Linked DNA regions of Homo sapiens. The protein of the gene in region 1 purifies or fractionates together with the protein of each later gene. This does not show direct contact. Each region holds a gene or a part of one and is shown in the gene's direction. Other genes may lie near its edges. The genes, in order: RGS20, NARF and CIAPIN1.

Evidence for each region.
Region 2: the proteins of RGS20 (region 1) and NARF purify together in Homo sapiens (affinity purification with mass spectrometry; 2 studies listed by BioGRID and IntAct, with this or other methods). This does not show direct contact.
Region 3: the proteins of RGS20 (region 1) and CIAPIN1 purify together in Homo sapiens (affinity purification with mass spectrometry; 2 studies listed by BioGRID and IntAct, with this or other methods). This does not show direct contact.

What each region holds. Positions count from the first base shown.
Region 1 is NC_000008.11:53,883,715-53,887,540, forward strand, and holds part of RGS20 (regulator of G-protein signaling 20), read left to right. Parts: intron 1-3,826. UniProt on the Homo sapiens protein: Inhibits signal transduction by increasing the GTPase activity of G protein alpha subunits thereby driving them into their inactive GDP-bound form.
Region 2 is NC_000017.11:82,468,588-82,472,413, forward strand, and holds part of NARF (nuclear prelamin A recognition factor), read left to right. Parts: intron 1-176; coding exon 177-309; intron 310-3,826.
Region 3 is NC_000016.10:57,445,630-57,449,229, reverse strand, and holds the start of CIAPIN1 (anamorsin), read left to right. Parts: upstream 1-1,844; 5' UTR 1,845-1,888; intron 1,889-3,600. Other genes in the region: COQ9 (ubiquinone biosynthesis protein COQ9, mitochondrial precursor), read right to left, coding at 1,652-1,724. UniProt on the Homo sapiens protein: Component of the cytosolic iron-sulfur (Fe-S) protein assembly (CIA) machinery required for the maturation of extramitochondrial Fe-S proteins.

The sequences.
Region 1 (3,826 bases):
CAGGTGGATCACGTGAGGTCAGGAGTTCTAGGCCAGCCTGGCCAACATGGTGAAACCCCATCTCTACTAAAAATACAAAAAATTAGCCGGGTGTGGTTGCTGGCGCCTGTAATCCCAGTTACTCTGGGGGCTGAGGCAGGAGAATTGCTTGAACTCAGGAGGCAGAGGTTGCAGTGAGCCGAGATGGAGCCACTGCACTCCAGCCTGGGCAACAAGAGCAAAACTCCGTCTCAAAAAAAAAAAAAGAGTATCTACCTAATGTGCTAGCTGACAGCATTCAGTAAATTAATAACATAGAGCTCTTATAACGGGATGGCACATACCAAGCAAAAGCTGTTATTACTATTATTATATTGATGCTAAATTGGCTAGACTTCAAACTATAAATAAGATCAGTAACAGAATGCATATTTTTGTATACTATAAAGAGTATGCATAATGAAACACATGTCCATCATCCAAATTAGAAAAACAGTCTTTTTTTTTTTTTTTTTTTTTTGATGCTGGGTCTCACTCTCTCACCCAGGCTGGAGTGCAGTGGCACGACTGAGGCCCACTGCACCCTTGAACTCCCAGATTCAAAGGATCCTCCCACCTCAGCCTCAGGAGTAGCTGAGACTTAAGGTGCCTGCCACCGCACCTGGCTAATTTTTTAATTTTTTATAGAGACAGGATCTCGCTGTGTTGCCAGGGCTGATGAACAGCCAGTTTAAGAGAATCTGAAAATGTACCTTAGGAGCTTGAAGTGCTAACTTGTCTGAGATCACTGTAAACGTTTTAGCTGAAACACCCCTTATATCAAAAATACAGAATGATGAAAATCAGGTTACTTATTCTACCTCCTTCGTTTTACAGATGAGGAAACATTCAGAGAGGTTAAGGGTCTGGGCCAGAGATCTCCAGCTAATTAGGGGCCAAAATAGAATGAAGACTTCTGACTCATTCCCCAGGGCTCTTACACACCACACTGCTGATTTCCTGTTTACTACGGATTAATGAACTGTTAACAGATAGAAAGTATAAATAAGGAAAAAGTGTACGAGCATGTGCTATCTCTAGCACCAAGAAGGACCAGGCAGTCATGTCGTGGCTACTGTTGTCCCACAGCTTTATCTTGGTCCCTCACATTATAAGACATGACCACATGACTCGCCTCAGGTAAGGTAAGGTCACAGATCAAGCTATTGTCAGAGCCAGCATTAGCATTTTAGGCCCCACTTGGGTATACATTTGATTGCATATTCTATTAATCTCCTGTAGCAGTTTTAGAAATCATTTTTGAGCTTTTCTTGAATTCTTAAAATATCCTTCCAGCTGGCTTTGAAGGTCTTTCCTATAAGAAAGCCTTTTAGAAAACGCCTTCAAAATTACACAGAAGGAGATTTTATTATTCTAGATTTTATGGACTAGCGAGAGTAAAAGAGAAAAGCTTTCTTATTTTAATGCAGTAGCCTGTAACTGGTTTCATTCCAGGCATTAAGTATTAATTCCTGAAATCCTGCTGTTCTTTTATTTCCGCATGTGGGCATCTAACCACATTCACCTTCCATGGACAGATGCAGATAGTGGCTTAAAGGTCCAGCCCTCACATCCACAGTTTAAGAATTATACAGCAGAGGCCGGGCGCGGTGGCTCACGCCTGTAATCCCAGCACTTTGGGAGGCCGAGGCGGGTGGATCACGAGGTCAGGACATCGAGACCATCCTGGCTAATGCGGTGAAACCCCGTCTCTACTAAAAAATACAAAAAATTAGCTGGGCGTATTAGCGGGCGTCTGTAGTACCAGCTACTCGGGAGGCTGAAGCAGGAGAATGGCATGAACCTGGGAGGCGGGGCTTGCAGTGACCCGAGATTGCGCCACTGCACTCCAGTCTGGGCGACAGAGGGAGACTCCGTCTCAAAAAAAAAAATGAATTATACGGCAGAGACTTTCTAGTGAACATCTGGTCTTACAAAGTTATTTATAGGGATGGTGTGTCTTCCAGGGGAGGTACTTCTAGGAATTATGCCTGCATCCTTGAAAAAGGAAACCGTGGTTTTTTCCAGTGTGTGAACTGGATACTGAGTATCTTACTCTTTTTTTTTTTTTTTTTTTTTTGACTCCAAGAAACCTCTTGCATGAATACCCTACTCTTGAATACTTTGCATCTTGGGATACTTACTACATGTTCTTAGACAGAAGGACAGGGCATTAAGAAGGGAGTGACTTTCTAGCATGCTCCCAAGCCAGTTTGGCAGAACTTAGTTTTGAAATCACATGTGTCAAGTTAGGTCCCAATATGATTATAATGTGAATCACTGTCCAATTGGGAATATTTCAGATTGGTTTTCAGTGCACCACCAGGTGACTCACAATGTGAGCTTCTATTCAAACAAGTACAGTGTCAGTCAGCAACTAATAGGGCTCACTCTGAGTCAGAGCTTAGCATTTAGTACAATAAGTGGGAGTCACTGACTACACGGCACCATCTGAGATGGTCCCTGAATGTTACTTTGCGCAGCTAGCTCAAGAGTTAAGGCGACGCTGCTTGGAGTGAGTCAGTTCATAGTACAATTGAATGGGCTCTTGGAGAGGCCATTCACAATCAAGTTTGATGTGGCTGAGTGCTCAGAGTAATATTACATGATTATAAATTCATGGAGTAGATTACCTTGATTCTAATCCAGCTGATTAGAGTCTAGCTATTTGCATAGGGAATCACTTGTGAAATATGAGTAATATGCTCTGTTGCCCAGCAGTGATATTTTACATGAGTTATTTCAATAGTTATTAAAGCCAGTTGACCTTTTTGATTTTGAAAGCTCAATTTCTAGTTACGCATTTATTTTATTCTAAAGTGTAAAATCCTTTTCATGTGAGCATTTGGGTTTTAGGCAAAGGCATCTCATGCAAAGTTATCTGATAGCTTGGCTTCCTGAGGTGCTGGGTTGTACGATGTGCACCTCCGTCCAACAGTGAAGGAGTGGAGAACGCCCTGCTATCTGGTTTGTCTACATTTGTGCCCCTCTGAAGCTGACTGAATTGTGGTTGTTCAAGGCTGGAGCACAAGTTTGTACTGCTGCTCTTAGACTAAGGACACTGGGGACTTTAACCCTTTTAGGGCTGAATGGCTAGAATCAACACTTATACAGCTGTTGAATTTTTGCAACATTGGAAAGAATTATGTAACCTACTCCTTACCTCACCCTTATAATGGACTTTTATGTCTCAGGGTGGGGTGATAATGTGATTTAAGGGACTCGTAGATTTCTTTCTTTCTTTCTTTTCATGTCTTTTATTAACTAATACACAATTACTTGTCTTCTGGTTTGTTGAAGCAATAAATCAGACAACATTAGCCACAATAATGCCTGTCAGAGTGGCTGGCCATAAAAACTCCAGCACCGCATTCATCTGAAGGGCACTCCCAGCGAAGGCCACTAATTCTGCCATTTTCATCCACCTTATAGTATTTCAGGACACCCACTTCACCTTCTTTCTCTTATGCTTATTCTTGGGAGTCGTGTAAGATTTCTTCCTAGTTTTAGCACTACCATGAAGTCTCAACACAACATAAAAAGAGTAAATTCCTTTTGAATGTTGTAGTCAGAGAAAGTTATGTCCATCTTCCAGTTACTTGCCAGCTTCCAGTCACTTGTCTTTGCTGATCAGGAGGAATTCGTTCCTTATCCTGGATATTGGCCTTTACATTTTTCTGTTGTATCCAAGGGTTCAACCTCTAGGGTGATGATCGTCCCTGTAAGGATTTTTGGAAAAATCTGCATTTTGGTGGAGGCTCCACCTGAGGTTGAGGGAAATGAAGAGATGGGTTAGACTGTGGACACA
Region 2 (3,826 bases), on another chromosome or scaffold:
CCATAATCCTGATTTTTTTTCTCCTTTTTCTTAATTATGTTTGCCAGTGTTTGTCTATTTTATTAGTCTTTGCATAGACCATCTATTAACGTTGTTCTGAATTTCTCATTAAGGTGTGTAACTTTTACTCCTTGTGTAATCAGCAGATACCTAACATTCTCTATTTCTCCTTCTAGAAATGTGATACCTCAAAGCACAAAGTGCTGGTAGTGTCTGTGTGTCCTCAATCTTTGCCTTATTTTGCTGCTAAATTCAACCTCAGTGTAACTGATGCATCCAGAAGACTCTGTGGTTTCCTCAAAAGTCTTGGTGAGTCATCTTTTGATAAATTGGGAATGTATAACTTGAGTTTATAAGCGCCCTTTTTAATCTCTAAAGTTCGTTTTTCAAGGACGCAGGGTAGATAAGCAACTTCCAAAAGAGTCTCTTGGAACGTAAAAAGACCATGTCCCGTGTGTCATGAAACCCAGCCTCTGATCGATGGTAGACGAGTGTCACTTTTCTCCTTTGCTGTGCACAGACAGGTGTTTTGTTACACAGTGGGAGCTGACCCCTCTGGGACCAAACAGTGACCACCTTCTGACAACACGGACAGGACACTGGGAGATTCCCACACTGGCCCAGCAACCTCCAAGTCACCCCTTACCCCCAGAGGGTGTGCATTTGATAAACAGTCACTTCTGAAATGATTAGTATCTGGTTTCCCAAGAAGCTCTCTGAAGAGCAGAGCAGAAAGGGAATGGGCTTGTGTTCTTTACTTGAGGAATGAAAGGTAGAAATTTAAGAATATAATAAAAGAACTCGGATGTCAACGCTGGAATAGTACTACCTGAAATGTTGATGGATGATGCTTCTGCGTCTTCTGCTTTGGTCAAAGGGGAACTGCCTCCCTCCATTTGCTTATAGAGGGGCTTTTACAGCCTTGAGCATCCTCATAGCATGATGGTCAGTGTGCAAGTTCAGAAAGGGAAAATGAGCGAGTTGCCAAATAAGAGGTTTTTTTTGTTGTTTGTTTGTTTGTTTGTTTGTTTTTTGAGCTGGAGTCTCGCTCTTGGTGCCCCAGGCTGGAGTGCAATGATGCGATCTTGGCTCACTGCAACCTCCGCCTCCCGGGTTCAAGAGATTCTCCTGCCTCAGCCTCCCAAGTAGCTGGGACTACAGGTGCGCGCCACCACTCCCGGCTAATTTTTGTATTTTTAGTAGAGATGATGTTTCACCATGTTGGCCAGGATGGTCTTAATCTCTTGACCTCGTGATCCACCCGCCTTGGCCTCCCAAAGTGCTGGGATTACAGGCATGTGCCACCGTGCCTGGCCAAGAGTTTTTATTATTCTACAGCGGCTTTTAAAAATTATAAATATTGGTCAGGTTTGGTGGCTCATGCCTGTAATCCCAGCACTTTGGAAGGCCAAGACCAGAAGATTACTTGAGGCCAGGAGCTCGAGACCAGCCTCGACAACATAACAAGATCCTATCTCTGCTAAATAAGTACATAAATGTAGATATATTGGGGATTACTGGTGAAATAAAATGATATTTGGAATAAGGATCATCAGGACAGGCTTGAAGTCTAAGCAGCAGCCTGGGGGTCCTGATGCTCCCTGTGCCCTAGGCGCCTGGGCTCTAACAAGACCTGGTCATCTAGCACATAATGTGCTGCAGCTGAAACCCAGCTACAGCGACAGGTGCCCACACGTTAGGTCGCTCCTTCATGCTTGTCATCATAAAGCCTCGGGTTAGGTTAGTTACACTGAAGATCAGAGTTGTCAAATGCTATATATTCTCACGATGAAAGCCCTTATTTGGGGCTAGATTCTTAAAATGATGTAACGGAATGTTATATATCAATAAAATGTATCCACAGTAAAATGGATTTCTTAATGTAATATTTTAAAATTTATAATATTTCTTTTTTTGTTGTTCTTGAGACGGAGTCTTGATCTGTCACCCAGGCTGGGGTGCAGTGGCGCCATCTCGGCTCACTGCAAGCTCCACCTCCCGGGTTCACACCATTCTCCTGCCTCAGCCTCCCGAGTGGCTGGGACTACAGGCGCCCGCCACCACGCCCGGCTAATTTTTTGTATTTTTAGTAAAGATGGGGTTTCACCATGTTAGCCAGGATGGTCTCGATCTCCTGACCTCATGATCTAACCGCCTTGGACTCCCAAAGTACTGGGATTCCAGGGGTGAGCCACCGTGCCCAGCCTAATATTTATTATAGCTAGTTGCATTTTCTCTCAGCTTTGTTACCTGGGGAGGGGGAGAAACAAAAAATTTAAAATTAAAAAAATCAGGCCGGGTGTGGTGGCTCATGTCTGTAATCCCAGCACTTTGGGAGGCCGAGGGGGCAGATCACCTGAGGTCAGGAGTTTGAGACCAGCCTGGCCCAACATGGCAAAACCCCATCTCCACTAAAAATACAAAAATTAGCCTGGCATGGTGGCAGACACCTGTAATCCCAGCTACTCGGGAGGCTGAGGCACAAGAATCGCTCAGACCCAGGAAGCAGAGGTTTGCGGTGAGTTGAGATTGCGTCACCACACTCCAGCCTGGGTGACAGAGCATGACTGTCTGAAAAAAAAAAAAGGCTGGGCATGTTGGCTCACGCCTGTAATCCCAGCACTTTGGGAGGCCGAGGTGGGCGGATCACGAGGTCAGGAGATTGAGACCATCCTGGCTAACGCAGTGAAACTCTGTCTCTACTAAAAATTCAAAAAAGTAGCCGGGCGTGGTGACGGGCGCCTGTAGTCCCAGCTACTTGGGAGGCCGAAGCAGGAGAATGGTGTGAACCTGGGAGGCGGAGCTTGCAGTGAGCCGAGATCACGCCACTGCACTCCAGCCTGGGCAACAGGGCGAGACACTGTCTCAAAAAAAAAAAAAAAAATTCAGTATAAAAATTTAAGCCATTATAAAAGTATGCCCTTGCCGGGCGCGGTGGCTCACGCCTGTAATCCCAGCACTTTGGGAGGCCGAGGCGGGCGGATCACGAGGTCAGGAGATCGAGACCATCCTGGCTAACACGGTGAAACCCCATCTCTACTAAAAATACAAAAAATTAGCCGGGCGTGGTGGTGGGCGCCTGTAGTCCCAGCTACTCGGGAGGCTGAGGCAGGAGAATGGCATGAACCCAAGAGGCGGAGCTTGCAGTGAGCCGGGATAGCGCCACTGCAGTCCAGCTTGCGCGAAAGAGTGAGACTCCGTCTCAAAAAAAAAAAAAAAAGTATGCCCAGCCATTCTATACTTTTACTGTACGTTCTACTTTTAAACACATCAAGAACCATCACAGACTGAAATTTAATTTGCCTGTGAATTGGAAGGGAATGCTGTGGGTACGTTGTAATATTTCATTAATTTATATATGGAGTAAGGTGTTTTAAAATGTAGAGAGGGAAGAAGCATGAGAGAGAACATACATATTTCATTGTGAAAAATCATACACGCTCATTGTTTACAAAATAAAAGGTAAAGCACACGGTCTTGAACTTAGGCCGTTAGGAATAGATAAGAACCAAGACTGATTTTATTATCTTAGGAGGGATGCCTGTAGAATCTATGCTTTAAGTTTGTCTCTTAAACGTGAGAAAGCAAAAATGAGTAAGAATGAAGAAGTATTGGCTGGATGCAGTGGTTCACGCCTGTAATTCCAGCACTCTGGGAGGCCAAGGTGGGTAGATCACTTGAGGCTAGGAATTCAAGACCAGCCTGGCCAACATGGTGAAACCTCATCTCTACTAAAAAATACAAAAATTGGCCAGGCATGATGGCGGGCACCTGTAATCCCAGTTACTCGGGAGACTGAGGTGGGAGGATCACTTGAACCTGGGAG
Region 3 (3,600 bases), on another chromosome or scaffold:
AAGAAGGATAGGGCTTGTCTCCCTGTGGGAAAACAGAATCCTAACTTTGTTAACTGCCAGCTAGCAGACCAATCTTATTTATAATTATTCACTATCCTGACTCTACTGAGTCCCCACCTGCCTTCCTCCCTCCTCCCTCATTTTTTCTTTGAAACACCCAGTGACTTCTGCATGCTCTAAACTCAAGGTTGGGCTCCGTTCATGCTAGACTCTTTTCCCTATTGCAATAGTTATTACTGATTAAAAATGGTCCTTATCACTTTAGTGTCCAGCTTTCTCTTTGACTGATTTTTAGTTTTTATTGCAGAATAGTATTCCATAAAAAAAATACTATTCTGTTGCTAGACAACTGGACTGTTTCTGTGTTTGGCTACTATGAATAAAATTGCTATGAATATACTTGTACTAACTTTTTTGTAGACACATACCTTCATTTCTCTTGGTGGATTTGCGGGGTCATAGACATTACTTTTACTACACATCTTTAGTTTGGAATTTTGTATAAATACAACAAAAGGGGGCTAGGCGGTGGCTCATACCTGTAATCCCAACACTTTGGGAGGCTGAGGCAGGCAGATAACTTGAGGTCAGGAGTTTTGGACTAGCCTGGCCAACATGGTGAAACCCCGTCTACTAAAAATAAAAAATTAGCTGGGCATGGTGGCACAACCCCAGCTACTAGGAAGGCTGAGGCAGGAGAATCACTTGAACCCAGGAGGTAGAGGCTGCAGTGAGCCGAGATTGTACCACTGCACTCCAGCCTGGGTGACAGAGTGAGACTCTGTCTCAACAACAAAATTAAGCCAAGTAGGGTGGCACGCACTTGTAGTCCCAGCTCCTTGGGAGGCTGAGGAGCCAGACCCTGTCTCAGAAAAAAAAAAAAAAGAAAAAAAAGAAACAGAATAGTATGTGCCAAAATATCAATATTTTAATACATGTACTGAAAGATACGGCACAAATATCCGCAAAACTTTGAAAAGGAAGGAGCAGATGCAAAGTATGACTGTAGTACCACTGAGGGTCATGAGAAGATTTTAGGTGAAATACAGGTGAACGTTTCATCAGTTATGTATGTATGCTAAAGTGTTAATGCATACGTTCTAATTAAGGAAGGCGATATTAGTTTTCCATTTATGACAATGATATAAAGTTTCCTCTTTAAGAACTCCTATTTAAAAATAAAAATACTGAGTACATAGTGGCAAAGGTGGTAAGAGAGTATCACAGAATTCGTGAAGTGGTGAGGAAACGGCTGGCTTTCGGGAAACAATGGACTAGGCTCTCTGTGGCCGTGTCCACCTGTCCTTCCAGTGGACTTGGCAATGGACTTGAGAATGGGTCTGCGACTGCCAGTTCTGTAACCAACAGGCTCAGGCTGCGTGACTTTCGTACCCCGAGCCCTCTCTGAGGCTCTGCCAACTCCATGAAATGGGGGTGACAGGCCCTGCCCCGCTGCATCTGCCCCTCACAGACAGCGGAGCAGGGCCGAAGCTAGCCAGGCGGCTCGCCCGAGCCCGCGCCGATGCCCTTCACCTCACCTTGCTCGTGGGCCGCCCCAACGGCCTCTTCCCCCCACCGTCGAACCCAGCTGAAGCCGGCCTCGCGCCCCCTCCGCGCTCCCCGCCTCTCCCCGGCTTGGCAGCCCCCTCACCGGGCAGGCATCGCAGCTGCAGGAGCCTCCAGCCCGCCCGGCCAAGCGCACCAGATACCGCCGCCGCCGCCATTTTGGAAGCGGGCACGTCGCCCACGGCGACGCGACCGGTAGCTACGGGACCACGGCCCTAAGGAGGGCGGAAGTCGTCGCTCCGTGGAGCCTCCTCCTCTCGCGAGAGGCGCAAGGCGTGGAGTCGACGGCTGGAGAGAAGCCGGGAGCGAGCCCAGGCGGCAGGTGAGAGTGGTGGGGGCCAGCTGAGCGCCAGAGCTCCCTCAACTGTCCCCTCCCGGCCCACCCTCGTTCCCACATCCTCTCATTTTCTCTTCCCACCCCGTTCCTCGATGGGAACGCAGCCACGGCCGCCCCGCTGAAAGCCCCGGCTGGTTTATTCCTGAGAAGTCGGTGTGAGGGGCCAGGGCCGGCCCTAACCTCCCTGGGGTCCTGACTGGGAATTTCTGCCGTTCCCCGGCTGCCTCGTCCCTTGCGCAGCCGGCCCTACTCTGAGGCCCCGGGGACACCACGCTGAGGAGAAACGGCTCCGAGCTTGGGATCGGGGAGACCTGGTTCTGAGACCCGGTCCTACCAGTAGCCAATCGTTGTGACCTTGGGCCTCAGTCCCCGTGACGTTTTGGTCCCTGGGGGTTCCTGGCAGCAAAGCACGAAAGCCTTGGAGTCGGGGGGTACCTGAGCTCACGATTGTAATTTCGAACCTGCAACTTGTCCGAACCCCCAGCGTGTTGAGTTGATATAATTAAGTATCCAGATCGGAAGGATGCTTGTTACTAGAACAGACAGCTAGGCCTTTGTCCAGAAGGATTGATTGAGTGGGTCTGGGTGTGGTCCAGGAATCTCATTTTAACCACTCCCTCGGGTGATTTGTAGGATCTGCAAGTTCGGGAAAGGCTGGTGCCCTTCATTCTGACATTACTGAGTGCCAAGCTCTGGATGGCTCAAGGAGGTCACGGTCTAGCCACTAACAGAGCACTTCACGGGGGTGTCATCAGAGAAGGCTTAGTAGGAAGAAGTAAACGGTTTTTGGGCTAAGAGTAACTGACGACAAGAGCATGTGATTCTGTCGATTTTGTGTTTGCAGTCAGACCCCATCATTGTGTCTGTTAAAGTTGTGCTTTGCACACCCCTTGTCAAATCTAGTCTTTTCAGAATATCCGGCTCCCCCCTGCACGGGTGCGGGGAAGACCTCCTAAGCCAAAACTTACCCCAAAGGTTAAAATTTTAGATCCATATTTCTGGTTTTAGGTAAAACACTCCTCTCCATAAGGATTTGTTTCTGAGTTCTATCCATCCATCTTTGAATGAGCCTTTCCTGTGGAAACTAACATTTGGGTATCCTTTCTGAAACCCTAATTCCTGACACACGCCAAATGCCTGGAGACGTTCCTGTTTCATTGTTGATTCTCACTTTTTAAAAAAAATTCTGGGCCAGGCTCATGCCTGTAATCCCAGCACTTTGGGAGGCTGCGGCGTGTGGATCACTTGAGCTCAGGAGTTCGAGACCAGCCTGGGCAACATGGCGAAACCGCATCTCTACAAAGAATACAAAAATTAGCTGGGTGTGGTGGTGGGTGCCTGTAATCCCAGCTATTTGGGAGGCTGAGGCGGGAGAATCGCTTGAACCCCGGAGTCGGAGGTTGCAGTGAGCCAAGATTGTGCCATTGCACTCCAGCCTGGGCAACAGAGCAAGACTCTGCCAAAAAAAAAAAAAAAAAAAAAAAAAAAAAAACCTCTAAGGTCTTAGTCTAAGTGTCTAGACAGAGCGTTCTCTTGAGGGCAGGGAACAAGTGTCTTCTTGTCTGTCTCCCGTGTAGGGACAGGCACATAGTAGGTTTCTTAGGTCTCATTTGCAGGTTGTAATTGTGCCTTCCTACCATTCTGCTAAAGCTGGCAGGGAAACTGAGGCCCAGAGAGGGGCAATGGCTGACTTGGAT